Homo sapiens: one gene and its partners. The main gene of each other region encodes a partner of the protein of the gene in region 2 in a complex. Each region holds a gene or a part of one and is shown on either strand. Other genes may lie near its edges.

Evidence for each region.
Region 1: MED13L (region 2) and MED18 share a complex: the UniProt entries of both Homo sapiens proteins name them as parts of the mediator complex.
Region 3: MED13L (region 2) and MED16 share a complex: the UniProt entries of both Homo sapiens proteins name them as parts of the mediator complex.
Region 4: MED13L (region 2) and CCNC share a complex: the UniProt entries of both Homo sapiens proteins name them as parts of the mediator complex.

The regions. Positions count from the first base shown.
Region 1 is NC_000001.11:28,324,186-28,332,057, reverse strand, and holds the start of MED18 (mediator of RNA polymerase II transcription subunit 18), read right to left. Parts: upstream 3,019-7,872; 5' UTR 2,878-3,018; intron 1,773-2,877; exon of another isoform or gene 1,683-1,772; intron 1,462-1,682; 5' UTR 1,396-1,461; coding exon 1,323-1,395; intron 1-1,322. UniProt on the Homo sapiens protein: Component of the Mediator complex, a coactivator involved in the regulated transcription of nearly all RNA polymerase II-dependent genes.
Region 2 is NC_000012.12:116,267,672-116,274,695, reverse strand, and holds part of MED13L (mediator of RNA polymerase II transcription subunit 13-like), read left to right. Parts: intron 1-7,024. UniProt on the Homo sapiens protein: Component of the Mediator complex, a coactivator involved in the regulated transcription of nearly all RNA polymerase II-dependent genes.
Region 3 is NC_000019.10:883,164-890,187, forward strand, and holds part of MED16 (mediator of RNA polymerase II transcription subunit 16), read right to left. Parts: coding exon 6,974-7,024; intron 6,645-6,973; coding exon 6,475-6,644; intron 3,039-6,474; coding exon 2,607-3,038; intron 1,846-2,606; coding exon 1,740-1,845; intron 1-1,739. UniProt on the Homo sapiens protein: Component of the Mediator complex, a coactivator involved in the regulated transcription of nearly all RNA polymerase II-dependent genes.
Region 4 is NC_000006.12:99,558,657-99,565,680, reverse strand, and holds part of CCNC (cyclin-C), read left to right. Parts: intron 1-2,732; coding exon 2,733-2,839; intron 2,840-3,999; coding exon 4,000-4,084; intron 4,085-4,244; coding exon 4,245-4,314; intron 4,315-7,024. UniProt on the Homo sapiens protein: Component of the Mediator complex, a coactivator involved in regulated gene transcription of nearly all RNA polymerase II-dependent genes.

The DNA of each region.
Region 1 (7,872 bases), on a different chromosome or scaffold from region 2:
TTGTTTACAAAATCTGGCTGGGCGCGGTGGCTCACGCCTGTAATCCCAGCTCTCTGGGAGGCTGAGGCAGGTGGATCACCTGAGGTCAGGAGTTCAAGACCAGCCCGGCCAACATGGAAAAACCCTGTCTCTATTAAAAATACAAAAATTAGCTGGCCATGGTGGTGCACACCTGTAATCCCGCTACTCAGGAGGCTGAGACAGAAGAATCGCTTGAATCTGGGAGGCAGAGGCTGCAGTAAGCCAAGATTGCACCACTGTGCTCCAGCCTGGGCAACGGAGTGAGAATCCATCTTAAAAAAAAAAAATCAGAGAAACAGGACCTAGAAAGATAGTTGCTAAGGGTTTGGCATAGAGGGGAGTGGTAATTAGTGTTTAATGGGTATAGAGTTGCAGTTTTATAGGATGAAAAACTTAAGTATTTTAGGCCAGGCGCGGCAGCTCATACCTGTAATCCTAGCACTTTGGGAGGCCAAGGCAAGTATATCACTTGAGGGCAAGAGTTCAAGATCAGTTTGGCCAACGTGATGAAACCACAACTCTCTACTAAAAATACAAAAATTAGCTGGGCGTGGTGATGCACGCCTGCAATCCCAGCTATTTAGGGGGGCTGAGACACAAGAATCCCTCGAACCCGGGAAGTAGATAGAGGTTGCAGTGAGCTGTTATTGTGCCACTGCGTTCCAGCCTGGGTGACAGATTGAGACTCTGTCTCAAAGAAATAAAAAGTTGTACTAAGTATTTTTTCAAGCTACTCACAATAAACCAAAGTTCTAAAGATCTGTTGTTTAACAATGTTAATATACTTAACAATACAGAACTGTACACTTAAATATGTTAAGATGGCAATTTTTTTTTTTTTTTGAGACAGAGTCTCACTCTGTCGCCCAGGCTGGAGTGCAGTGGCGCGATCTCGGCTCACTGCAACCTCTGCCTCCCAGGTTCACACCATTCTCCTGCCTCAGCCTCCTGAGTAGCTGGGACTACAGGTGCCCGCCACCACGCCGGGCTAATTTCTTTTGTATTTTTAGTAGAGACAGGGTTTCACTGTGTTAGCCAGGATGGTCTCCATCTCCTGACCTCGTGATCCGCCCACCTCGGCCTCCCAAAGTGCTGGGATTATACGCGTGAGCCACCATGCCCAGCCAAGATGGCAAATTTAGTATGTTTAGTGCATATAAAACTATAATTTAAAGTAACAGTTAAAAACATAGCTGGGTGCCAGAAACTGTGCAGGCTGCTTTTGTGTTAAGTCTCTCATCTTAAGGGAAGCTGAACAGAGAAGAGGAAAACAGGTAATCCAAGTTCCCTAGTTCACTTACCCTGCAACAGGTACTCCATCATGTTAATGGTGCCCCCAGTGACAGGCATCATGGTGACTGGAGGTGCCTCCATGGTGTCTAAGTTGAAGACAACACAACTGGACTCAGAGCCCCCAGTCAGGTAAGGCACGGGATATACCTGGAAAAGAGTTCACTTGTTTATACATCAAAGTGGTGGAGAGAGACCAGATCTGTTGTGGCACTGGCCTTCAAATCAAAGATTCATTCATTCAAAAACGTTTGAGTATTTCCTTATATGGCCAGTTCCAGGAACTGATGACACAGAAATATAGAAAGGAGATCTGGTCATGGAGTTACAGCATTACCTTCTAGTCTCAAGTTCTGAAACCTCCACATTACCTGTGCAATCTTGAGAAAGTCCTATCTATAACCCCTCACCCTGGGACTCAATGTCTTCCTTATAAAATGAGGCCAGTGATTTTTTTTTTTTTTTTTTTTTGAGACGGAGTTTCACTCTTGTCGCCCAGGCTGGAGTGCAATGGCGCAATCTCTGTTCACTGCAGCCTCTGCCTCCCAGGTTCAAGCGATTCTCCTGTCTCAGCCTCCCGAGTAGCTGGGATTACAGGCGCCCGCAACCAAGCCCAGCTAATTTTTTTTGTATTTTTAGTAGAGACGGGGTTTCGTCATGTTGGCCAGGTTGGCCTCGAACTCCTGGCCTCAGGTGATACTCAGGTGATCCGGCCTCCCAAAGTGCTGGCATTACAGGTGTGAGCCACCGTGCCCGGCCAAAGGCCAGTGATTTTTAACTCCCAAGGCTATGTGGCTCAAACGAGATAATAAAGAGGCAACAAAATTCAGAAGAACTGAAAAAGTGACTTAAGGGACCTTCGTTTTATAGATGAGGATATTGAGACTTGGAGAGGGACAGAAGGATACACACAGCAAGTTGGTAGCAGAGTTTGGACCAAACTAACATCTAGGCGTTCTATCTCTCTGAAAATGCCTTCCCCCGTACGCTTTTCTTTTTTGGTGACAGGATCTCGCTCTGTAGCCCAGGCTGCAGTGCAGTGGGGAGTTCCTAGCTCACTATAACCTCGAACTCCTGGGCTCAAGCCGAGTAGCTGGGACTACTACAGGCGGGAGACCACACTGCGGCTAGCCTAAAAATGCCTTTTAAAGAGAGCCAAGGCCGGGCGCGGTGGCTCACGCCTGTAATCTCAGTACTTTGGGAGGCCGAGGCCGGCGGATCAACTGGAGGTTGGGAGTTCGAGACCAGCCTGACCAACATGAAGAAACCCCGACTCTACTAAAAATACAAAAAATTAGCCAGGCCTGGTGGCGAGCGCCTGTAATCCCAGCTCCTCAGGAGGCTGAGGCAGGAGAATCGCTTGAACCCGGAAGGCGAGGTTGCGGTGAGCCGAGATCGCGCCATTGCACTCCAGCCTGGGCAACAAGAGCGAAACTCCGTCTCAAAAAAAAAAAAAAAAAAAAAAAGAGAGAGAGAGCCAAGGGGAAGTTATTTTAAGATGATGGTATATAGGTCCTTCTAAGCCGGCATCCATAACACGTATCCAATTAAACACTAGAAGCACACCTCCTTGAGGCTGTAGTGTCTTCTCGAGAAGCCGGGAATTATATCCACCCGCGCACCTAGGAGCTTTTGAGCGACGATTAGATACCAGCACTCCGGTTACCCGAGCCCGGGAAGCCCCCAGATCGGTGCAACCAGCCAACTTCCTCCTCTTCTCACTTCCGGTCGGAAGCCGACGTCTCACAAACCTCGAAACTGCCGTTCCCAAACGTATGGGTGCCGAGAAGGCCGAAGAGCTTCATTGCGGACAGACAATCAGAGGCGCATGCGCAAAATTCCGGGCTGCTGTATGAAAGATGGCGGCCTCCTTTGGCGCTTTCCTCCGGGCGCTACCTGGATCCTTGACGTCATAGGCCATGCTCTAGGAAAATCTTTTTAGGTTTGACAACCTGGAGATGTATTTGTGTAGAAAGTCTCTTGGAACTGATAGGACTTACAGAGATTATAGTGGGTTTCAAAAGAAAAAAGAACTGAGGGGTTGGGCGCGGTGGCTCACGCCTGTAACCCCAGCACTTTGGGAGGCCGAGGCAGGCGGATCACTTGAGGTCAGGAGTTCGAGACCAGCCTGGCCAAGATGGTAAAACTCCGTCTCCATTAAAAATACAAAAATTAGCCGGGCATGGTGACGCGCGCCTGTAATCCCAGCTACTAGGGAGGCTGAGGTGGGAGAATCGCTTGAACGCGGGAGGCGGAAGTTGCAGCGAACCGAGATCGCGCCACTGCATTGTAGCCTGGGCTACAGAGAGAGACTCTGTCTCAAAAAAAAAAAAGAGTCTGGAAAAGGAGTAGGTCCAGATCCAGGAGTACTCTGCAGTGCCATACCAAAGAATACATGTGAGCTTTAAAAGAACCCTGGCTACAACATGGAGAAAAGTTTGGGAAAGGAGAGAGCCTAGAGAAAAAAGACCAGGCCGGACACGGTGGCTCAGGCCTGTAATCCCAGCACTTTGGGAGGCCAAGGCGGGCAGATGGCTTGAGTTCAGGAATTCAAGACCAGCCTGAACAACATGGTGAAACCCTGTGTCTACAAAAAATACAAAAAATTAGCTGAACGTAGTGGCTCGCACCTGCAGTCCCAGCTACTTGGGAGGCTGAGGTGGGAGGATTGCTTGAGTCCAGGAGGCAGAGGTTGCAGTGAGCTGAGATAGCGCCACTGCACTCCAGCCTGTGCAACAGAGGGAGATCCTGTCTGGAAAAAAATTAAAGAAAAACGACCAGTTAGGCGCTTTGGTACAACTCCAGCTGAGAAACAAATGTCAGAAAAAGATTTTAAAAATGTAAAAAGAGGACAGGCGCGGTGGCTCACGCCTGTAATCCCAGCACTTTGGGAGGCCGAGGGGGGTGGATCACGAGGTCAGGAGATCGAGACCATCCTGGCTAACGGTGAAACCCTGTCTCTACTAAAAATACAGAAAATTAGCTGGGCGTAGTGGCGGGCGCCTGTAGTCCCAGCTACTTGGGAGGCTGAGTCAGGAGAATGGTGTGAACCTGGGAGACAGAGCTGGCAGTGAGCCGAGATCGCACCACTGCACTTTAGCCTGGGCGACAGAGCAAGACTCCGGCTCAAAAAAAAAAGTAAAAAGAGGAAATTAGCCGGGTGTGGTGGCACACGCCTGTAGTCCCAGCTACTCAGGTGGCTCAGGTGGTCAAGAGACCAAAATTGCTTGAACCCAGGAGGCAGAGGTTGTAGTGAGCTGAAATTGCACCACTGCTCTCCAGCCTGGGCTACAGAGCAAGACTCTGTCCTCTATATATATATGGAAAATAATTCTTTAATGACTAACCAGAGGTAAAGACAGAGATGAAGGAGTCACAGATGTCTTGGGTGGCTATCGTAGCACTTTTTTTCTCTAAGCTAGGAAACACAGAGCAGTGTGGGTGAGACAGGAAAGATGAGTTCATATGTAGACCCACTGAGCATCAGGTGTCTGTGGGACACCCAAATGGCAAAGTTCAGGGGAGAGAAATGGGCTACAGATAGAGATTTCAAAACCATAGCCTCATAGATGGTAGCTAAAAGCCATGACATTGAATGAGATCATCGTGAAAGAGTGTACTAAGTAGGAAAAGAAGATTGACAAGGATTGCGTATGCCCTAGGGTTTAGGATGTGCCTCCTGATCAACCTGGTGATTCACAAGATTGGGCAGAGTGACCAGCTCTCAAGTGCTGTAATGATTAGAGGAGGCTGTGAACTTCTTTGGCCTCTCTTTTCCTATACAGACACTAATTGCAGCATAGAAAGTCCAGTGAATTACAGGTCATTTGAGGCACCATAGGGTTTACCCAGATTTTAGCTGGTATTTTAAAGAAGGGTAAATTTTTTTAAAAAGGTAGGGGAGATAGACAGAAAATGGGTAAACAATATGATAATACCTGAAGGAGGCCTGGAGATTACAGGGATGGGTTTCTCTGATAAGGATATGATGCCTAGAGCTTAGGATGGGGCCCACCCCTGTACTTTGCCACTACCCAGCTGTGCAACCATGGGCATTCACTTCCCCTCCCTGAGCCTCAGCTTCCTTTTTTTGTAAAATAGAGATAATAATAGTACTTTCAAAGGAGTTTGCCAAAATCAAATGAGATGGTTATAAAGCATTTAACATAGTGCTTGGCTTATTGTAAGCACTTAATATTTTTATTTTCTTTTATTTTTATTTAATTTTATTAATTTTTTTAGAGACGGAGTCTCACTATGTGAGACCCAGGCTGGTCTCAAACTCCTGGCCTCAAGCCATCCTCCCATCTTGACCTCGTAAAGTGCTGGGATTACAGGCATGAGCCATCATGCCTGGCGTGTAGGCATTTAATAAGCAGTAGTTATTAGCTTTTTTTTTTTTTTTTTTTGAGATGGAGTCTCGCTGTGTCGCCCGGGCTAGAGTGCAGTGGCGCAATCTCGGCTCACTCCACTTTCCGGGTTCACGCCATTCTCCTGCCTTAGCCTCCTGAGTAGCTGGGACTACAGGCGCCTGCCACTACGCCCAGCTAATTTTTTGTATTTTAAGTAGAGATGGGGTTTCACCGTGTTAGCCAGGATGGTCTCGATCTCCTGACCTCGTGATCCACCCGCCTCGGCCTCCGAAAGTGCTGGGATTACAGGCATGAGCCACCGCGCCCGGCCTTTTTTTTTTTTTTTTTTTGAGGCAGAGTCTTGCTCTGTTGCCCAGGCTGGAGTACAGTGGCGCGATCTTGGCTCACTGCAACCTCCGCCTCCTGGGTTCAAGCTATTCTCCTGCCTCAGCCTCCCAAGTAGCTGGATTACAGGTGCATTCTATTTTATTGTTTTCACTCTTTTTTAAATTCATTTTTTCAAAATTATTTTTTTCATTTTTCGGGGGAGTCACTGGATCTGTGAATGTATTTTGTGCATGGCTTATCTCCCTGGATAGATTGTAAACATCTTGAAGTGAGGAATCATATATATATACACATATACACACACACATATATATATATACACACACATATATACACATATATACACATATATATACATATATAAAAATGTATATCTACACATAAATATATATATATATATATATTTTAAACAGTCTCACTCTGTCACCCAGGCTGGAATGCAGTGGCGCCATCTTGGCTCACTGCAACCTTCGCCTCCTAGTTTCAAGTGATTCTTGTGCCTCAGCCTCCTGAGTAGCTGGGATTACAGGCGTGAGCCACCACGCCTGGCTAATTTTTGTAGTTTTAGTAGAGATGGGATTCACCATGTTGGCCAAGCTGGTCTTGAACCCCTGACCTCAGGTGATCTGCCTGCCTCGGCCTCCCAAAGTCCTGAGATTACAGGCGTGAGCCACCGTGCCCAGCCCCAGCCTTTTTTTCTTTCCTTTTTTTGTAGAGACAGGGTCTCACTATATTGACCAGGCTGGTCTCCAACTCCTGGGCTCAAGAAATTCTGCTGCCTAGGCCTCCTAAAGTGCTGGGATCATAGGTGTGAGCCACAACACCAAGTCAATATTTTTTTATATAGAGTACTTGCTGAAATGATAATATTTTGGATACTGGGGTTAAATAAAAATATTTTATTACATTTAATTTAACTTGTTTATTTATTTTTATTTATTTGTTTTGTTTTGTTTTGTTTTGAGACGGAGTCCTGCTCTGTCGTCCAGGCTGGAGTGCAGTAGCGTGATCTTGGCTCACTGCAACTTCTACCTCCCAGGTTTAAGCAATTCTCCTTCCTCAGCCTCCCCAGTCGCTAGGACTACAGGCGCCCGCCACCACATCTGGCTAATTTTTCTATTTTTTAGTAGAGACAGAGTTTTACCATGTTGGCCAGGCTGGTCTTGAACTCCTGACCTCAGGTGATCCACCTGCCTCAGCCTCCCAAAGTGCTGGGATTACAGGTGTAAGCCACTGAGCCCAGCTTATTTTTACAGGGTGCTACTAGAATATTTATTTATTTATATTTTTATTTATTTGGAGACAGAAGTCTTGCTCTGTCTTCCAGGCTGGAGTGCAGTGGCACAATCTGGGCTCACTGCAACCTCTGTTTCCCAGACTCAAGCAATTCTCATGTCTTAGCCTCCTGAGTAGCTGGAACTACAGATGCATGCCACCATGCCCGCCTGATTTTTTTTTTTTTCTTTAAGTAGACCAGGTTTCACCATGTTGGCCAGGCTGGTCTCAAACTCCTGTCCTCAAGTGATCCTACTACCTGGGCCTCCCAGATTGCTGGTGTGAGCCCCCATGCCTGGCCTAGAATATTTAAAAGTATATATGTGACTCACATATTTCTGTTAGACAGTACTGCTATAGGATCTAGATTTGAAGGTGTGGCTTTACAGTCAGACAGATCTATAATTCTGGCAACTGCTTGTGTGGGTCTAGGCAGTTTATTTAACTTCTTAGGCCTTTGGCAGTGCCTGGTATATACTGTATATTGTAGGTATGCAATGAATCAGATTTACTGTTAGGAGAATGGTTTAGGAATTGGGGAATGTTTAATTAGAAAAGACTTACGAAGGGTGGACATGACATCTGT
Region 2 (7,024 bases):
AAGGTGCTATTGAAGAAATGTAAATTAATTAAACTGCTGACTTGTACATTTTTCTGATTCCAAATTGAGATTTTTTTTTTTTGAAAATGCTATACAGCAGTAGCAACCTGGAATATTAAAAATATGTTGCCCAAAGTACATTGTATATCATAGTTATTTCTGAAGGAGATGTAATCACTTGTTCAAAATCATGTTTTTTTATAAGAACGCTTTATGGTTTAATAATAGCATGCATTTTTTTCTTTTGGCCTGCAGGGTTTTTTTTTTTTTTGTTTTGTTTTTTTTTGCAGAGAAAAGTATTTATAAAGAATTTACCTAGATACTCTCATTAGTTAGATTGAAATAAGAGATTAAGTTCTGTACCGTGGTAATACCCACCCAGTTTCCATTACCTTGAGGTGTTCATTATGGCTTACCAAAAGTTGATTGTGCAATCAATCAGACACTTTAAGATTTCTGCTAGTCTTTTACTTATTTTCTGATTTTTTACTGCACGGAATCAAATTTCTTAAATTAATTTTTCAGCATCCATTCCCTTTTCCTAACGTGTGAAAAATGCCATTGTGTATATATGATATGGGTCATTGTATAAGTTTCTTATTCTAACTGCTGTGAGATTTGTAGCTGCTGCATTAAGTGCATGCCTGCCTGTGCCTTTCTGACTCAAAACTATTTTCTTATGCTGTCCATCACATTTCTGGGTGACTTTTTATATATTCACTCAGTTAATCATTCAGTTAAAAGTGTGTTAAATCTGCCTTTTTGAAAAGTGTAACAGTGCACCCTATGGTATGTGAACTCATTCTTGTGAGAAGACATAATTTCTGGATGTTAAGTAGACATTTATTTTTCTCTATTGAGTTAATATGGAGAAAGTGATTTTGTGCCCTTTAACTAGATTTAAATATGTGCTCTTTGATATGAGGGAGTGATCTCTAGTTCTTAGATATGTATGCTCCACTTTCATGTTTTATTTGCTTAGAATCTTCCTGACTATGGATAATTGGGTGATAATCTCAAATTCTTGCTGAATTGAGACACTAGTACACCCATTAGTACATAATTCCTATTGAAGACCATTAGTTCTATATTTGAAGCTTTTAAGGTAATCTATTGTTGACCTACTTTCTTTTTGTCTTAAGGGATTTTTTTGCAGAATGGGAAGGTAGTTGTAAATGTAGAAAGTCTGAATTTTTTTTTTTTTTGCGCTAGAACAAAATAGGGTGGACTATAAAATGGAAATTAGGAAAAGGGAATGATTTCTCTAATTTTCAAAGTGCCAAAATACACAAGGTATTTTTTTGTACCAGTTCATTGTGATTTTATAATTTATGTTTAAAGCATTTTTTTCCATGATGGTTCATTTTCTTTCTTTTTATTTTTTATTTTTTTGAGACGGAGTTTCGCCTTGTTGCTCAGGCTGGAGTGCAAAGGTGCCATCTCAGTTCACTGCAACCTCTGCCTCCCAGGTTCTAGCGATTCTCCTCCCTCAGCCTCCGGAATACCTGGGATTACAGGCATGTGCCACCACGCCCGGCTAATTTTGTATTTTTAGTAGAGACGGGGTTTCTCCATATTGGTCAGGCTGGTCTCAAACTCCCGACCTCAGGTGATCCACCTGCCTCAGCCTCCCAAAGTGCTGGGATTACAGGCATGAGCCACTACGCCTGGCTATCATTTTCTGTAATGAAAATATTTACAATTTGTTAATGTATGTTTTCGGTTTAGCATTTTGTTGTTAGTAGCACATGGTGTTACAGTATTTATATATTTTTAATAGCAATAATTGCCACCCGGTAATAGTTGCCATATTAACCTCCAATTGCTAGTAAATATTTTTAAGTACATAATAGACAGCAATTTAAGGCATAGTGTAGCAGTTTACTGGACTGTTTTAAAGAGCCATTTGTATGTGTGATGAGTTCATAATTTTAAAGAGACAATAATGTACCTTAGGCCTGTATGCTACAAATATTTTGCTGTGGATGTTGCTTGAAGTACTCACTGGGAAGAAGTTAGGTAGGGCCTATTCTTTGTGAGAAGAATGGGCAAGGGGGTGTGTTTAGGATAGTATGTATTTATTGAATTTATGCCAGGTGCTTATATAGCTTATCATTTTTTTTTTTTGTTTTGGTTTTTTTTTGAGACCAGAGTCCCACTGTGTCACCCAGGCTGGTGAAGTCTTGGCTCACTGCAACATTCAGCTCCCGGGTTCAAGGGATTCTCTTGCCTCAGCCTCCCAGGAGCTGGGATTACAGGCGCCTGCCACCATGCCTGTCTAATTTATTTGTGTTTTTAATAGAAATGGGGTTTCGCCATGTTGGTCAGGCTGCTCTGGAACTCCTGACCTTGTGATCCGCCTGCCTCGGCCTCCCAAAGTGCTGGGATTACAGGCATGAGCCACTGCGCCCGGCCAGCCTGGTTTTTAATTGTATTCCTTACCACTTTCAGAGATCTCTCTCACCAGTTTGTACTAGTGCTATAAATTGTGATAACTAAGTTAATTTTGTTCTATAATTATTTTTGCCTAATAATTTAAAATTGAGATGAAACTCATCTCAATGAAAATATGTAAATATTACTATTTACATATTTATAGAGAAACAGACAACAGAAAAATTGTTTATTTTTTATGAACAGTTAATTCAGCTGTCTCTCAACTTTGAATCAAAGATAGAGTAGATTTTTTTTGAAACATTCGACTTATTTTTGATTGAAGAAAATAACAATAATAACAATGTTCCCCTTCTTTAAGCTAGTAGTAGGAGTACTGATTTGTGTGTGTGTGTGTTTTTTTTGAAAGTGAATGATACATTTATTTCACAGGAGCTAACCAGTTAGCCAGATTAGACAGATTTTATGAGAATTAGTAGTATGGTTGACTATTAGGTATTACTGTTATTGAACTGTGCATTGCAACCGTAGAAATGAAGAAAAAAATACATGCAACATTGTTATTAGTGTCATTTATTTCAGATGTATTTTGTGCAGATCTGATTTACAAACTGTTGTGTGATGTTGGCCACCAGAATTTCTGTTTTGTCATAACGTTTCTTTTTTTTTTTTTTTTGAGACGGAGTCTGGCTCTGTGGCCCAGGCTGGAGTGCAGTGGCGCGATCGCGGCTCACTGCAAGCTCCGCCTCCCGGGTTCGTGCCATTCTCCTGCCTCAGCCTCCCGGGTTCACGCCATTCTCCTGCCTCAGCCTCCCGAGTAGCTGGGACTACAGGCGCCTGCCACCATGTCTGGCTAATTTTTTTTTTGTATGTTTAGTACAGATGGGGTTTCACCATGTTAGCCAGGATGGTCTCGATCTCCTGACCTCGTGATCCTCCCGCCTCGGCCTCCCAAAGTGCTGGGATTACAGGCGTGCCTGTCATAATAACATTTCTATTTTAAGAAATTATATTTAATGTATTTCAAAGTGAGGTAGTTGGGTAGCCTAAAAGTCTGTATAGTATTCTAGCGCACACACTCACACACACACACACACGTATTTGTTTCATAAGACTTGCTTAGAGTTTCAGAATTAGCGAATCAGTATTTGTATGTGTTCTTGGAATTTAGGACATTTTCCCCCCTCTTGAGTCATTTAACTTCTTTCTGAGCTTGTTCAGATAATTTTCTTTCTTTTTTTTTTTTTTTTTTTTTTTTTTTGAGACGGAGTCTCGCTCTGTCACCAGGCTGGAGTGCAGTGGTGCGAAGTCGCCTCGCTGCAACCTCCGCCTCCTGGGTTCAAGCGATTTTCCTGCCTCAGCCTCCCGAGTAGCTGGGACTACAGGCGCGCGCCACTATGCCCAGCTAATTTTTGTATTTTTTAGTAGAGATGGGGTTTCACCATGTTGGCCAGGATGGTCTCTATCTCTTGACCTTGTGATCCGCCCGCCTCGGCCTCCCAAAGTGCTGGGATTACAGGCTCGAGCCACCGCGCCCGGCTGATAATTTTCTTTTATAGTATATATACTTTCATTGTTTATTTGAAAGATTTAAAGGTGTTAGCTTTGTTCTGTTGGGGGAATTCACTTCATTACATAGGGGAGATGATATTTCATTAATCTTAGTAAATATTAACATAAACGAATTGTAAATTCAGACTCATTTGCATGAATGAAATATGTATGCTTGCCCAATTTTTGTTTAGTATGAAGTCATGTACATCAGCGTTTTCTGTCTTTGCTTTAGTTGATAGAAAAATAGTTTAAAATTCGTGTTCCTTTACTCCCTTGTTTTATTACTGAACTTTAAGATTATCTAGCTGGGCGTGGTGGCTCAAGCCTGTAATCCCATCACTTTGCGGGGAGGCCAAGGCAGGCGGATCACGAGGTCAGGAGATTGAGACCATCCTGGCCAACATGGTGAAACCCCGTCTCTACTAAAAATAGAAAATAATTAGCTGGGTGTGGTGGTGCGCGTCTGTAGTCCCAGCTACTTGGGAGGCTGAGGCAGGGGAATCGCTTGATTCCAGGAGGCAGAGGTTTCAGTGAGCCGAGATGGTGCCACTGCACTCCAGTCTGGCGACAGAGCGAGAGTCTGTCTCAAAAAAAAAAAAAAATTATCTGTGGTATAGAATAGATTTTATCCTCACATATTAGCTGTAATAATCCTCCTTTAGGAACTCCTGTTTTTCTTGCATTTATATTAGCATGTTTTGGTTATCTTTGTTGGAGTAGAGTTGTCCTCCTTTTTTTAAGTTAATAAAGTGCTTTTTAGAATATATTTTGATTCTAGTTTGAAAAAAAAAAAGAAAACTGCCTTGTATTTTTTCATTGACTTCTTTCTAGATGACAGGAGAGTCAGTTGTGTCCAAGGCAAAATGTTATTTCATTGGCATTTCCATACTCTGGTTTACTATGTATATTTCTCAGTGTTTATTTCTCATTCTAGATGAATTGTGGTGTAGAATCTAATTAAAACTGTATTTCTACTACTTTGAAATAGCGCAGAGCCTTGGCTGACAGCTTTCTACATTTTGTACTATTTTTCAGTATAGTAAAACTCCATTACTGTTTTTCTTTTTTGTCTGTTTTGTTTTGTTTTGTTTTTGAGACAGTCTCCCTGTGTCACTAAGGCTGGAGTGCAGTGGGCTCAAGCAGTCCTCCCACCGCAGCCTCCCCAAATGTTGGGATTATTGGCATGAGCCGCTGCTCCCTGCCTCCATTACTGTTAAAGGATCCTCTTGAGTTGAGTGCATCAAAATTTCATTAGTGTCTTTTTTTTTTTTTTTTTTTTTTGCATAGTTTAAATTTGTGGCTTTAACTTTAAAAGTAGATTGGGGGGGCGGGGAGGAGGGAGAGCATCAGGAAGAATAGTTAATGGATGCTGGGCTTAATACCTAGATGATAGGCCGGGTGCGGTGCTCAGGCCTGTAATCCCAGCTCTTTGGGAGGCCGAGGCTGGCTGATCATGAGGTCAGGAGATTGAGACCATCCTGGCCAACTTGGTGAAACCCCGTCTCTACTGAAAATACAAAAAGTAGCTGGGCGTGGTGGTGTGTGCCTGTAATCCCAGCCACTTGGGAGGCTGAGACAGGAGAATCGCTTGAACTAGGGAGTTGGAGGTTGCGGTGAGCCGAGATTGTGCCACTGCACTCCAGCCTGATGACAGAACGAGACTGTCTCAAACAAAACAAAACAAAAACAACCAAAAAACCTAGGTGATGGGTTAATCTGTGCAGCGAGTCACCATGGCACATGTTTACCTATGTAACAAAACCTGCACATGTACCCCAGAACTTAAAATAAAAGTTGATGGGGAAAAAAAATTGATAGGAGAAGATAAAGCAGGAAAATATTTAAGTCTTCATTAGATCTTTTTACTTAATAATTCTTAATTTGTATTAAGTCACTGAGTTGAATGTATTTAAGACATTTGATATTAAAATTAAATTGGAGTGACAGACTTGTTTCAAATAAAATATGTAATTGTAAACAAGTTTTATGGTGGGGAGTAGAAATTTCAAAAATTGGTAATCTAAAAGGATATTAAACTGAATAAGAATTATTGTGATCTTTTCTTCTCCCTTAAAAAACATTTGACAAATTTATGAAGAAGTGTTTTTTTTTTTTTGCTGGGAGGAGGGGAGATAGGGTCTCACTATGTTGCTCAGGCGGTTTCAAACTCCTGGCCTCAAATGATCCTCCTGCCTTGGCCTCCCAAAGTACTGGGATTACAGGTGTGAGTATGAGGAAGTATTTTTGAGTATAATACAGGAGGCTTCCTCATTTCAATATTATTAAGAAGGATGATTAAATTTATCTGAACTTAATATGAGCACTAATAAGGTATTCAGAAGAGTATAATTGGTTTGACAAAAAACATTTTATGTTGACAATTCTGACTATTGAATTTTCATGCCCTAAAGAGAAATAAGGAAAAACATACATATATCTAACTGGAACATTTGGAACTAGCTCCTAGTATTTGTGCCTGCATGTAAGCCTGGCACAATGCTACTTAAGAAGTTCAAATGTTACCTCCTCTGACCACCACAGGCAGAACTAGTTACCCCCTACCTCCCTCTGTGTACCTCTGATCATCAGATGAGCTTCTGCAGGAGAGTGACCCTGTTGAAATCATCTTTGCTAGGTGCTCATTAACTATCTGTTAAGTGATGGAATTCCTGGACGATTATTCTCCATTCCTCAAGGGAGCTCTTATTGACCATTTGGGTCTTGATCACAAGTATGCTGTTTTTATTTCAGCTTATTTTGATGATTAACTCTGTGTTCTGAATATATTTTATCTAGACTGTATGTACTGTGGCTTGGTAATATTTTAGATGAATTCTAGAATTTCCTTATTAAAGACAATTCCAACTGATCATGAGACATGTTCTTACTCCTCAAAGGAATAAGAATTCATTTAGTGTTTAGATTTTCTGTAGCATAGTAGGCAACCTATAGATTTTTGAGCCTTCTGGGGATTTTGTTTGGGGGCTTGATCCAGAATTCCTTTACTTTCATTCTTTAAGCTGTATAGCAGTGCTTTTGTTCAACATTCAAAAGATTGTTTTCTATGAGCCCAGTA
Region 3 (7,024 bases), on a different chromosome or scaffold from region 2:
GAGAAGCTAAGCTGCTAAGTGGGGATGTGGGGCAGTGGGTGAAGAGCTGGGCATGGTAGGAACCGAAGCCTGGCATGGTGGGCACGTGGGGCGGTGCGTGAAGAGCTGGGCATGGCGGGGACCGAAGCCTGGCATGGTGGGCACGTGGGGCGGTGGGTGAAGAGCTGGGCATGGCGGGGACCGAAGCCTGGCACGGTGGGCACGTGGGGTGGTGGGTGAAGAGCTGGGCATGGCGGGGACCGAAGCCTGGCACGGTGGGCACGTGGGGCGGTGCGTGAAGAGCTGGGCATGGCGGGGACCAAAGCCTGGCATGGTGGGCACGTGGGGCGGTAGGGGGAGAGATGGGGGAGAGATGGGTGCGGTGGGGACTGTCCCAGTGACCCCCAGCTGCCAGGGATGTGAGACCTGAGAAAGGCTGTGGCATGTGTGTGAGACGTGGCTCTCGGGCGGGTAACAGCTGGGCCAGCAGGTGAGGACGGCTGCAGGAGACGAGGAGGAGTGTCGGAGCCCAGGACTGCCCAGTGGCTTGGCTGTGGGCAGATGGTAGACACAGACGTGCCCAGCGGGGGCACCGGGCAGTGAAGGTGCAGGTCTGTGCAGCCACACGGGGTGGCGCCAGGTGCTGCTGCAGGAGCCAGCGCAGCCCAAACTGCCTGGTGACTCACCACGAGGCCCAGGGGAAGGAATGAGGCCCAACAAGGCCCTGGGGACCGGGCGAAGGAACGAGCCCTGGGAGAAGGAATGGCAGCAGCCCTCTTCACCTGCCTGGTGACTCACTACAAGCCCTGGGGGAAGGAATGGCAGTGGCCCTCTTCACCTTTACTGCCTCTGCGGCCACAATGGGCAGTTGACATAACCACCTGCAGGCCCCGGGAGCCATCGGGGCCTCTTGACACGTGCTCATTAGTGGCTTCTGAGGAGCGCCTGCCCCACCTGCCCCACGTGCCCCCACGTCTGGCCACTCCAGGGTCCATTAGCGCTAATCGGCAAATGCCTGTGCTCTCATCTACCGGGAAAACATCTCCCTTCTCCAGAGCGGAGGCCAGCCTAAAAACCAGGCCCGCAGCCTCCGAGGCTCTGAAAACCAAGCGGCTGTTCTGGTCCCCGGTCATAGCAGGCGGGCGTCCCTGCTTCGCTCCAGCCCCAGGATTTTGTGCCGGAGGTGGGGATGACGGGCTTGGCTCCGTGGGTGCGGGGGGCCCATCGGGCGGATAGAGATGGGAATGGGGGCCCCAGAAGAGGCTGCTGGAGAGGTGGGGTGGGGTGGGGGGCGTGTTCTCAGCAGCCTCAGCTGACCCGCTGAGCCTTGGCTTCCTCTCCCTGAACCAGGTTCCGGAGGATTCCGTGCACCGCCCCTGCCCGGTCTGGCCTGTCCCCTGCTGCCCGACGGCCCCACCCACAGACCCACGCTCCACAGCCGCCCACACGCCTGCAGCCCCTCACGGTGTCCCCGCTGGCTGAGCAACGACACCTCTCAGCCTCGGCCTCGCACAGAATGGTGGCAGCCGCCGCAGCGGGCGTGGAAGGATGGAGGAGTCTATACGCCTAACACACTCAGAATGCTGGCAGGCGCGCGGTCACACCCGAGATCCTAGCACTACTGGAGATCGAGGCGAGACGATCGCTTAGGGCCGGGGTTCAGGACCACCCTGGGTGACACAGCAAGACCTGCCTCCAAAATAAAAACCAACCGCCCCCGAGGGCAGGCCCAGGGCCTCCGCAGCCGGCGGGAGACTCACCCACGGGGGAGATCTGCTGGAAGATGTTGTTCACGGGGAGTCCCTCCTTGCGCAGGGACCAGCACTCCACGATGCTGCTGGTCTGGCTGGACGCGCACAAAAGCACCTGCGGGGGAGGTGGGGGTGAGGGCTGACCCGGCACTGCTGTGGTGGCCACGCCACCACCGGAGCCTGAGCTGCGGGACCCTGGGGCCACGCACTGCTGGGCCTGTCTCTTCAGCCACGCCTGCCCCTCGGGCCCTCCTGGATTCCAGCCCAGGCCTGTCCCCAGAGCCCAACATCCACTCACAGGAACGCAAATGTCCCCGGATGGTGCCCTCCCACAGGGACAGCAAAGGGACACAGGGAACCAAGTCAGGGGCTTCAAGGAGTTTGGGGCGTTACTGATTCCTAATTACAACAGGAATCCAGGCGACCTGGTGTGGTCGGCTCAACAGTGGCCCCCAGAACATCCCATCCTCAGCCCTAGGACCGGTGGCTGGGCCGCCTCTCACAGAGAAGGGACCTGCGGGTGGGATTCGGTTCGGGACACTGAGACGGGAGAGCACGTTGGGGGGGGTCCGGGGGCCCCAGTGTCCTCACAGGGTCCTCAGGAGAGAATGTGGGAGGTTGAGATTCAGAGACAGGAAGAGGCTGCGCTGTGGCCACGAAGCGGGAGGAAGGCGCCCCGAACCGAGGGATTGGGCGCCTCCAGATGCTGGGAAAGGCAGAAAATGGGTTCTCCCCTGGAGCCCCCGGGAGGGACCGGCCCTGCCCACACCACGGTTTAGCCCGTGGAGGCCCGCGCGGGTCTCCACCCCCAGGACCCTGAGAAGCAGTGCTTCATTCCAAGCCTGCCAGCCCACGTGATGGCCTGCGCCCGTTCACCTGCTCCGACATGTCCCGGGCCAGGAACTTGAGGTGGGTGATGGCGGGAAACTTGTCCTTGCGGTTGAGGTCGGTGGTGCAGCGCATGAACAGGGAGGGCAGGATCTCCGTGTCGATACGGCACTTCTCGCTCACCACGCTCACGCACACCTTGTAGAACTGCACGGGCGACGCGCTGCTGCCGTCCGCCGTGGCCACCACGATGTTGCCGCCGCCGGTGAAGGCGATGTCGGCCAGGGCCACGCGGCCGCGCAGCCGGCACAGGCTCTCGGTGGACGTCAGCACCTGCCCGCTGGGCTTCAGCAGGGACACGGTGACCAGGCCGCTGACCGTCACCGCGATCCAGCCCTCCATGGGCTTGCCGCCGAACAGCGTGAGCGACGGTGAGAACTTGACTCGGGAGAACTTCTCCCCGAAGCTGGAGGCGCCCGACTGTGGAGAAGGGAGGGAGGGAGGAGGGGCCGCTCAGGCTCATGGGGGCTGCCCCATGACCCCCAGAAACACGCGCACAGAAGAACCACGCAGAAGCCAGGAGTGTGTGCACCTGGGTTCAGATCCTGACTCGGCCACCTGAGCCGTGTGGGATGTGATCCCCTCTGACCCTCCGTCTCCTCATCTGTAAGGTGGAAGGAACGGCACCTTTGCTTTAGAGGACAGTGGGGAGGATTAAACGGGTGAACGTGTGCGCAACGGGAGTCACCTCCCCTTTCTGTAAAGGGACAGACAGCAGCATGCTCGGTTCTGGGAGCCAGGTGGTCCCTGTTGCAACGACTTGGCTCTGGCTCTGCCGTGGCGGCACACAGGCAGCTGGTGCCAATGAGCCACACTCACAAACCCAGGCGGGGGCCGTCAGGCCCTGGGCCGCACTGTGCAGACCTGAGCTATAGCACTCAGGAAGTGCTGTGTAAGCACCAGCGGCTGCTGCGGGCACTATTTGATTTCAAATCAAATTTGTCAAGTCATTATTGACATACGGAAACATCCACCCTTCTTTCAACGTGAGTCTTTTAAAAGATGGGGTCTTGGCTGCGCACGGTGGCTCTCGCCTATAATCCCAGCACTTTGGGGGGCTGAGGCAGGTGGATCCCCTGAGGTCAGCAGTTCAAGACCAGCCTGGCCAACACAGTAAAAGCCTGTTGCTAATAAAAAATACAAAAAAATTAGCCGGGCATGGTAGCGGGTGCCTATAATCCCAGCTACTCAGGAGGCTGAGGCAGGAGAATTGCTGGAATCCAGGAGGTGGTGATTGCAGTGAGCCGAGATCACACCATTACACTCTGGCCTGGGCAACGAGAGCAAAACTTTGTCTCAAAAACAAAAAAAAAAAGAACAAGAAAAATGTCTCTACGTTGTGAAAAAATGCGAGGAAGAGAAGTGTATCATACGTATCGTACGGCTCCATTCTAAGTTACAAGTTAAAAAAAAACACTTCTTATAGCAAGAAGCAGGTCCAGAAGTCCAGGAAGCAAGCCAGGCCTGGTGGTGAGGGGTTGCCATGGCGACGACTCATCTGGTGTCCACACCACACGTCTGTGTGGGTCGCAGGCTGGCATGTCTGAGACTATGTTAAAGGAGCACATGTGCCTTTTATTAATGTAATTAAAAAACAAAAATTTGGCCGGACGCGGTGGCTCACGCCTGTAATCTCAGCACTTTGGGAGGCCGAGGCGGGCAGATCTCAAGGTCAGGAGTTCGACACCATCCTGGCCAAGATAGTGAAACCCCGTCTCTACTAAAAATACAAAAATTAGCCGGGCGCGGTGGTGCGTGCCTGTAATTCCAGCTACTCGGGAGGCTGAGGCAGGAGAATCACTTGAACCTGGGAGGTGGAAGTTTCAGTGAGCCGAGATCGCACCACTGCACTCCAGCCCGGTTGACAGAACAAGACTCTGTCTCAAAAAAAATGTATTTGGTTATTTTAAAAAGCGAGGCTCTGACTCAGGCCACAGCGGGGATGCACCTTGAGGACATCACGCTCAGTAAGAGATGCCAGACACAGAAGGCTACGCAGTGTGTGATCCTGTTTCTATGAATGTCCAGGACAGGCAGATCCAGAGAGACAACTGGGTCTCGGGGGCTGGGGTGGGGGATGGATCAGGGTGATGCAGGATGGGGACTGGGTTTCCTTTTCGGGTGATGAGAAGGGACTGAAGCTGGGCACAGTGACTCACGCCTGTCATCCCAGCACTTTGGGAGGCCAAGACAGGCAGATCACCTGAGGTTAGGAGTTCGAGACCACCCTGACCAACATGGAGAAACCCGGTCCCTACTAAAAATACAAAAAAGCAGCCGGGCGTGGTGGCGGGCGCCTGTAATCCCAGCTATTCAGGAGGCTGAGGCAGTAGAATCGCTTGAGCCCGGGAGGGAGAGGCTGCAGTGAGCCGAGATCGCGCCACTACACTCCAGCCTGGGCAACAGAGCAAGACCCTGTCTCAAAAAACAAACAAACAAACAAAAAAGATAAAGGTCTGGCCGGGCTCGTTGGCTCACACCTCTAATCCCAGCACTTTGGGAGGCTGAGGCAGACGGATCACCTGAGGTGAGAAGTTCGAGACCAGCCTGGCCAACATGGTGAAACCCCGTCTCTACTAAAAAATTACAAAAATTAGCCAGGTGTGGTGGTGGGTGCCTGTAATCCCAGCTACTCAGGAAGCTGAGGCAGGAGAATCGCTTGAACCCAGGAGGCAGAGGTTGCTGTGAGCCAAGATCGCATCACTGCACTCCAGCCTGGGGGATAGAGCGAGACTCTGTCTCCAAAAAAAAAAAAAAAAAAAGATAAAGGTCTGAGGTTAGCTATGGTGGTGGCCGCACAACATGGCGAGTGTATACGAAACCTCTGGACCGTGTGGGCTGCACACTCTCAATGGGTGAGTTCTAAGGTCTGTGAACTCCATCCCGACAAAACTGTTACCAAAAACAGGAAATACAGACAAACGGGGACCGCAGGGTGGGGAGTGCACCCCGGAGGGCCCCCGTGGCACGAAGCCGGTGCTGCGTGTACTGCGGCAATGCGCCGACAATGGCAGTCCCTGGGGAGGGACTCACGAAGGGACGAGAGAAAAGATCTTGTCCACTGCATCCCTCCAGGAAGGCCTCCTAGTTCCTGCGAGAGCCCCAGCACAAGCAGACGCACAGAGGCACGAAGCTGGGGTGGCTGTGAGGCCTTTGCCACGAACATCCCCGAGACCCTGCCGTCAGTGAGGAAACTGACACACAGAGGTGAGGAGTCAGAGCCTGAACCCAGGTGCCCCCCCAACCCTGGCCACGCCTACTCTTAACTGTCCCCCCCAACCCTGGCCACGCCTACTCTTAACTGTCCCCAACCCTGGCCACGCCTACTTCTTAACTGTCCCCAACCCTGGCCACGCCTACTCTTAACTGTCCCCCCCAACCCTGGCCACGCCTATCTTAACTGTCCCCCCCAACCCTGGCCACGCCTACTCTTACCTGTGGGGCCGAATCACAGGGAGCATAGAGAGGGGCTCTGGGATGTTACTAAATCAGAGGGTGGGCTGCATTCAGAAGACAGCAGCCACCAGTTATACATGCAGCTACCTAAGGACAGTAGCCTCCAGTGAAAGAGATAACTCACTAAGAACGGCCACCCTCAGTTAAATGAGGGGCCACTGAACACGCAGGTGCCAATGACAGCCAGACTGCAGGTGGGGGCCAAGTGAACAGCCACCCTCAGTTAAATGAGAGGCCACTGAACACACAGGTGCTAATGACAGCCGGACTGCAGGTGGGAGCCAAGTGCAAGGTCCAAAAAACCAGGGGATGCTGGTGATGGAGAGGAGAGGGGCTGGCGGGTGGCTGGGTAGGGTGACATCTCATCTGCCTCATCCGCTCACTCGGGCAGGACACTCACCTTCTCCACGTGCAGGGCCAGTTTCACACCATTGTGCAGCCAGGACAGGGCCACAATGGGGTCCCCCTCCACTAGGCTGCCCACTGAGCTCTCCCAGCTATTAGCCAGGTGGTCCGCCATGCTCCAGCACTTGATCTGCCCGTCGGCATCTGCTGACAGGAGCCGGGAGCCTGAGGGCAAGAAGCCATCATTGCGAACCTTCCAGGGATGGGCAGAGCACTGCGTTGCAGGACGGCACAGCGCCTGGGGGAAGCCAGCCCAGTGGAGAGGTCTCGGCCCAGGTAGGGCACAGCAGGTGGCACAAGGCGCACTCCAGAGATGCCCTGAGACACCCTGAACAAGAATGATTCGGGCCACTATGGAAAGAGCAGCAGGTGCAAAGCTGCAGACCAGGGGCTCTAGACCCAGCGCCGGACTCCAGACTGACCGGAGAAACACAGGGCCCCCCTGCTCCGGGATCCGGGTCGCCACCCCTGGCCACGTGGGACCAGCGCCTCACCTGACTGGTCCCACTCCAGGCAGGTGATGGCCTCGTGGTGCTCTGAGGGGA
Region 4 (7,024 bases), on a different chromosome or scaffold from region 2:
GATGCTTCCTTAACATGAAAAACATAAAGCATCAGCAGTGGTGAAACATTGAGATAATTAGGGTGCCTATTTAAGATTTTACCAATATGCTAGTCAATACAGTTGATACAAAGGAGATATAGAAAGAATGACAAAACAGGGACAAAATTATCAATACGTGGAAATAAAATTAATGAGAAAACTCAGTTAATTGAGAAGTTATTAGAAATAATAAAGGTTTAGGAAGGTGACCAGTTATAAAATGCAAAAATAAAAGCTTTTTAAAAATGGATAGAGAAGTATAATTTACATTAGCAACAGAAAATATACAGAGGGAAAAATATAAAGAAATATACAGAACCTGTAGGAAGAAAACTTTAAAAGTCCATAGTGGCACATACAGATTTTAATAGAGTTTGAATTCTTGGTAAGATGTCATTTCTCCCCATATTGATCTTTAAATGTAATGTAATCACAAAATTTGAATGGATATTCTTTTTTAGGACTCGACATAATGCTTCTAAAGTTTAGGTCTTAGAATAATTGTGATAGAATAGTCAGAAATTTTCAGAAGAATAGAAGGGAGTATTTTTCATATCACCTATTAATTACTTAATTTTCTATGTTTTAAAGTAGCACAGCATATGAAGAAGAAAAAAATAGGAAATTATAAAGAAGATCCAAGTATAATGATAGAATTATAAATCAGGAAATACCTTAGCACATTTGGATAAGCATTTGACAACATATTTAGCTGGATCCCTGCTTTATACTCTGTACCAAAATAAATTCCAGATGGATCATAAATTGAAGGAAAAAAGCTCTTAAGGGTATTAGAAAATATGGGTGAATTGTTTTTTATCGTTTTGAATCAGGAAAGGCCTTGCTATGCCTGACAAACATGAAAGTAAAAGGTAGATTTAAGTAAGTGATTCAGATTTCTGTATTACAAATAAATACTGAGAGATATTTAAACTTGGGAGAAATTTTGCACTTATTTGACAAACAAATGATTTATTATTTATACTATACAAATTTTAGATCAGAAGAATCTCTTAATCATTAAAAAAATCGGTAATCCCATTAGAAAAATGGTCATATTAGAATTAACATTGTACAAAAGAAGAACTGTATTTGACCAATAAAGACATGGAAAGATGTTTAACCTCAAAAGTAAACTACAGGGAAAAGAAACAGTGACATACTACTTTGCCTTTAAGTTACAAAGTATTTAAAAGTGGCAGTAACCCATAGGAATTTTTTTTTTTTTTTTTTTTTTGACAGAGTCTCACTCTGTACCCCAGGCTGGAGTGCAGTGGTATGATCTCAACTCAGTGCAACTTCCACCTCCCGGGTTCAAGCAGTTCTCCTGTCTCCGCCTCCCAGGTAGCTGGGACTACAGGCGCACGCCACCACGTCCAGCTAATTTTTGTAATTTTAGTAGAGATGGAGTTTCACCATATTGGTCAGGCTGGTCTCAAACTCCTGACCTCAGGTGATCCACCCACCTCGGCCTCCCAGAGTGCTAAAATTACAGGCATGAGCCACCGCGCCCGGCCAGGATTAAATATTATAAGATTCACTCATGAACTGTTAATACAAATGGAAATTGGTATAATGTTTTTGGAGGGTAAACTGACAATGTGTATCAATAAGTTACCAGCAACACTAACCCATTAATCCTACTTCTGGGAAGTTATTTCAAATATATTATTAATCAAATATGCAAGGAGAATTACAAAGATATTCATTAAGAAGAATATCATTCAGGAAAATAGTAGGAAGAGAGTTTTTTTTTATACCAGCTATTAATTACTTAATTTTCTGTGTCTAAAATAGCACAGCATGTGAACAAGAAAAAAATAGGAAATTATAAAGAAGATCCAAGTATAATGATAGAATTATAAATTAGGAAATACCTCCATGCATTTGGATAAGCATTTGACAAAATTTTAGCTGGATCCCTACTTTGTACCAAAATAAATTCCAGATGGATCATAAATTGAAGGAAAAAAGCCCTTAAGGGTATCAGAAAATATGGGTGAAAAATGACGACCTGTATTTCCATCAGTAGAGATTGGCTAAATAATGATCCATCCATAAAGCTGTATAAAAGAATGCTGAATAACAAGTTCATTGACATAAGACTTCAAATACATATTGAATGACAAACACAGGTTCAAGATAGTTTTTTCTTTGAGTCATGTCAATTTCATATCTGGTTAAAAATAGCACACTTGACTAGGCAAGAGGAGGAGGCTATCAGTGTAACACATTCTGAGGCAGTTTTTAATATAATTAGATTTGTGAAGTAAGGAAATTAAATGCCATAGTTACCCATGAACAGCTGGAAAACTATATACTTCCTCAAATCTAAGCCACCATCAATTGGTGCCAAATAATTCCACCATTATCTTATATCACTAAGAAAGAATAAACATGCTGCCAATTAAAACACGAAGGCATCACAGATTGTAAGACATATCTTGATATCAGAGCCAGAATCAATGAAATACAAGCTAGTAACAGACTAAGGAGGAAGAAGGAAAAGATTAGAGCAGAATTTTTTCAGGACGTATTTACATTTATTAGTGAGATAATTCTTATTAGTCACGTTTCAAGAAATGTGAGAAATAATTGTCTTTAAGGTTACTTTTTGCACTTTGTACTTCTCAGAATATGAACAATGTGTTCAATCTTAGAGTGTTTCCTCTGACCTTGCTTGTTGATTTTCTGTAACATGTCTTTTCTAGTTTGCAATGGATTTTGGATAAACAAGATCTGTTGAAGGAGCGCCAAAAGGATTTAAAGTTTCTCTCAGAGGAAGAATATTGGAAGTTACAAATATTTTTTACAAATGGTAAACTTTTTTAAAAATTGGTTCAAATTGTATAGTTGGTTACCTCTGAATAAAAATGTTTTTGTGTGGTAATTTGTGAACTGTTTTAGTGCATACCTAACATTTTTGCTTATACAGGTATTCTTTTTACAACATATTCATTTATCTTTCTTTTTAGTGATCCAAATAAAGTTTTTTTGTGTGAATTTTACATATCACAGGCACTCAAGACAATTTGAAAGTGTTACCTAATCTCCCTAAGACTTTATAATAATTATTAGACCCAGTTCAAGGTTGGCTAAAGCAAAGTACTTTGAGGATAAATGATTCTTTGGATTGACATCCTATAGTGGTCGTTTCTCTTAGAACTTTGCTTTGAAGGGAAGAAGATGTAGGGATAGATCTTTACTCTGACATGTAGTAGGTTTGTCACATAATTTTTTTAACTTTCGGTTCACTATTTTGTAAACTTATCTTTTTTTTGAGGATTCGTTATGGATTTTTATGTATTATTTATTTATTTTGGTGAGCTGTATAAAGCTAAGTGTGGTGGCTCACACCTGTAATCTTAGCACTTTGGGAGGCAGAGGTGGGCAGATCACTTGAGGCCAGGAATTTGAGATGAGCCTGGCCAACATGGTGAAATTCCCTCTCTACTAAAAATACAAAAATTAGCTGGGCGTGGTGAGGCACAAGAATCACTTGAACCTGGGAGGTGGAGATTACAGTGAGCCAAGATCGTGCTACTGCATTCCAGCCTGGGCGACAGAACGAGACTCTGTCTCAAAACAACAAAAAAAGTGGTAGTATTAACAAGTTTCATAGGTGTCTAATATTTTCTTTTTATATTTATTATAAAGATACTATGAAAAGCATTAAAAATATTTAGAAGATAGAGGGGAAATATTTATTCAACTTCCTTAATGGATGAATAATTTTTTCCTGTGGGGCAATTTCTGTTTTGTTGTTGTTTTGTTGTTGTTTATGCATACCTATATATTTCTTAACACATTTGCAAATCCTAGAATTAGACCACTGTGACTCACATAGAGCATGTGTAGGTTTTTTCCTTTGTTAAAAATGAACATAATTATGATTTAACCACATGGAAGTTACTGTTCAATGTTAATATTATAATGATACCAGAAGATACATTTAAAATTTCATTATTTGCCTTTTAGTTATCCAAGCATTAGGTGAACATCTTAAATTAAGACAACAAGTTATTGCCACTGCTACGGTATATTTCAAGAGATTCTATGCCAGGTAGGATTGTTTTTATTTTATTTATTTGAACTCTTATCTAATGTTGATGAACCTTAGCACAGTGTAAATGAATCATGTGTCTACCATAGAGTTATCTTGATTTTTTTCCCAGTGTGTTTTCTGTATGAATGATATTTAACTTTGTTTTATCATATTTTAGGTATTCTCTGAAAAGTATAGATCCTGTATTAATGGCTCCTACATGTGTGTTTTTGGCATCCAAAGTAGAGGTATAAAACAATTTTCTGTTCTTCATCAAAGTGTAGTCAATGTATGTTGGTTAATCTGCCCCAGTTTTCACATGGCCTATGTAAAATTAATAAATGGTAATTTATGCAAAATACTAAAATTGTACAAAATCAAAGAAATATATACATATCCTTATATATTCACTTAACAGACACATACAGCACTTACTGTGTACCAACTGACTTAATCTTTGTAACAAACTGGAATACATAGTAGTAGTATTCCCATTTTATAAATGAGGAAACTGAGACAGAGATGAAGAACTTGCTTAAGATGATATAGCTAGTAAGTGTGAGAGCCCGTGTTTGAACCATGGGAGTCTCGTTACCAATCCTGTGTTCTTAACTACTTTCCTCTGCTGCCTTTGAGACATCTATTGTTTGGCACTGAGTAGTATTCAGTAAGTACCACAGCTTGCCTACCATAACCTGAGAATGTCCCTTATGCTTCTCACCCATATGCTTATCTTCTCCTGTCTTCCCTCCCATCATCCTGATGATTGGCTGCCTACCAAGCCAGAAGGAAGGCAAGGATTAGGGGAAGCTATAGCTATATAGAGTCTAACAAGTAAAAGTTGAGGTTGTGAGCGTAGAGAAATTAGGTAAGGGAGAGAAGATAGATAGGAACTTGCGGCAGAGACTGAATTTCTGTTCAACTGTTTTACCTTTGTAGTATTTTTGAAAGAGCTCAGCTAAAGTCCAGAAAATAATAGCAGATATTGGCTGTTTTTCATAAATAATGTAGTCTTTGGTGGTGTGAAATCTTTGCATTATGTTTCTATTTTTGGATAATGTCTTAGAGTTCTATTCTTAGAGTTGTATTCTTGAATATTGAATGTGATTTTTACCTAGTAAGTTTACATTCCTTTTGGCACCCACTTTGATTTAGTTTTGTTTTAGCCATGATTTAAGGTTATCCATGACATCTTTCCCAACTGTTACCTAAATAATGACAATTGACTCTGTTAGAAATAATATTAAGACAAGCTTTCTAGAAGTTTATGTTTTCTAATTGTGAGTGGTAGTTTAAGAAGGCAGAATCAGTTAAGGTCCTTATTATGGATTGAGTTTTCTAATTCTAATAATTCTATGTAATATTTGATTTTATTTAAATATTACCATGTAATAATTTAAAGTCTCTTAAGCACAGGCAGTATGGAGGACCAAGACAAAAAATCTTTATAAACATTTAATCTTGTAGATTAATTTGAGGATTTTAATCTATCTTACTTGTTAAATATTGTTATGTGATTTACTGAGTAGAACTCTGTGATGTGATTTACTGAATGAAAGTTTTCCCTTTGAGTTTTGGATAAAGAATTATTCCTAGGCCGGGTGTAGTGGCTCACACCTGTAATCCCAGCACTTTGGGAGGCTCAGGCGGGTGGATCACCTGAGGTCAGGAGTTTGAGACCAGCCTAACCAACATGGCAAAACCCCGTCTCTACTAAAAATACAAAAATTAGCCGGATGTGGTGGCAGATGCCTGTAATCCCAGCTACTAGGGAGGCCGAAGCATGAGAATTGCTTGAACCCATGAGGTGGAGGTTGCAGTGAGCCAAGACTATGCCACTGTACTCCAGCCTGGGTGACAGAGCAAGATTGCATCTCAAAAAAAAAAAAAAAAAGAATTATTCCTGAGAAAGAGAATGTAGTCTTTCAGATTTGGTCGTAGCATTATTATTATTTTTTTTTTATCTCTGTGACCAAATCTTTCTGTATTTTCTCTAGTTTTATGGAAATTGTATGGAAAGCTCATTTAAGAACATGTCTCAGGCTTTTACTTTTTCTTTTCAGTTATTATAGTTGGAGGTTTAAATGTAAAACAAATATATTAGTACACATACATTTCCCCTACACAGGATAAGGATGTAGGCTGAAGGTATTTAAATAGATTTTTAGTTTAGCTCCTTTTGTTGGATAAGAAACCAACTCTTGATTTTTTTATTTTAAAATGAAGTGAAGGCTTTAGAAATCTTACGAGGCAATAAATGAAACAGTATATATAAGGTGGATCATAATAAATTTTAGTATTTTCACAATGGTGGTTGTTCAGTTGAAAGAGGAAATGGGAACTGACTTTGGAAGTCTTACGTAATTCCTGTCTCCCTGTTCTAAAAAGGATAGTAACTATTTATATGGTTTTTTTTTTTTTTTAGTTCTTTTGGTGATTAATTAAGGTTTATCTTATTCACAAATTCAACTGTTTTACCATAGAATGGCATGAAGTATCTGTTAATACAGGTTGAATTGAATAGGAAACATACTTAATATTCTTGCAATTAAGTATAGAATGTAAACAATCTTCTTGGAAACTAATTTAAATGGAAAAACTGACACTGTAACCTTAAGGCTTGGTTTCTAATTTGGTACCTTTTATTGTTATTAAATTATAAAATTATTTTAAAATATGTCTTAAGTTGTAGCAATTTGGGGGAGAGGTAATACAGGCAGAATATCCGTAATCTGAAAATCCTAAATGCTCCAAAATTTGAAACGTTTTGAGGGCCAACATGACATTCAAAGGAATGCTCATTGGAACATTTTGCATTTCAGATTTTTAGATTAGGGATGCTCAACCAGTGTAATGCAAAATATTCCTAAATCAGAAAAATCTCTGATCCTAAGCATGTCAGATAAGGGGTAATCAGCCTGTACATTTAGGAGTGTAAGTACTTCACACCTCAAGTAG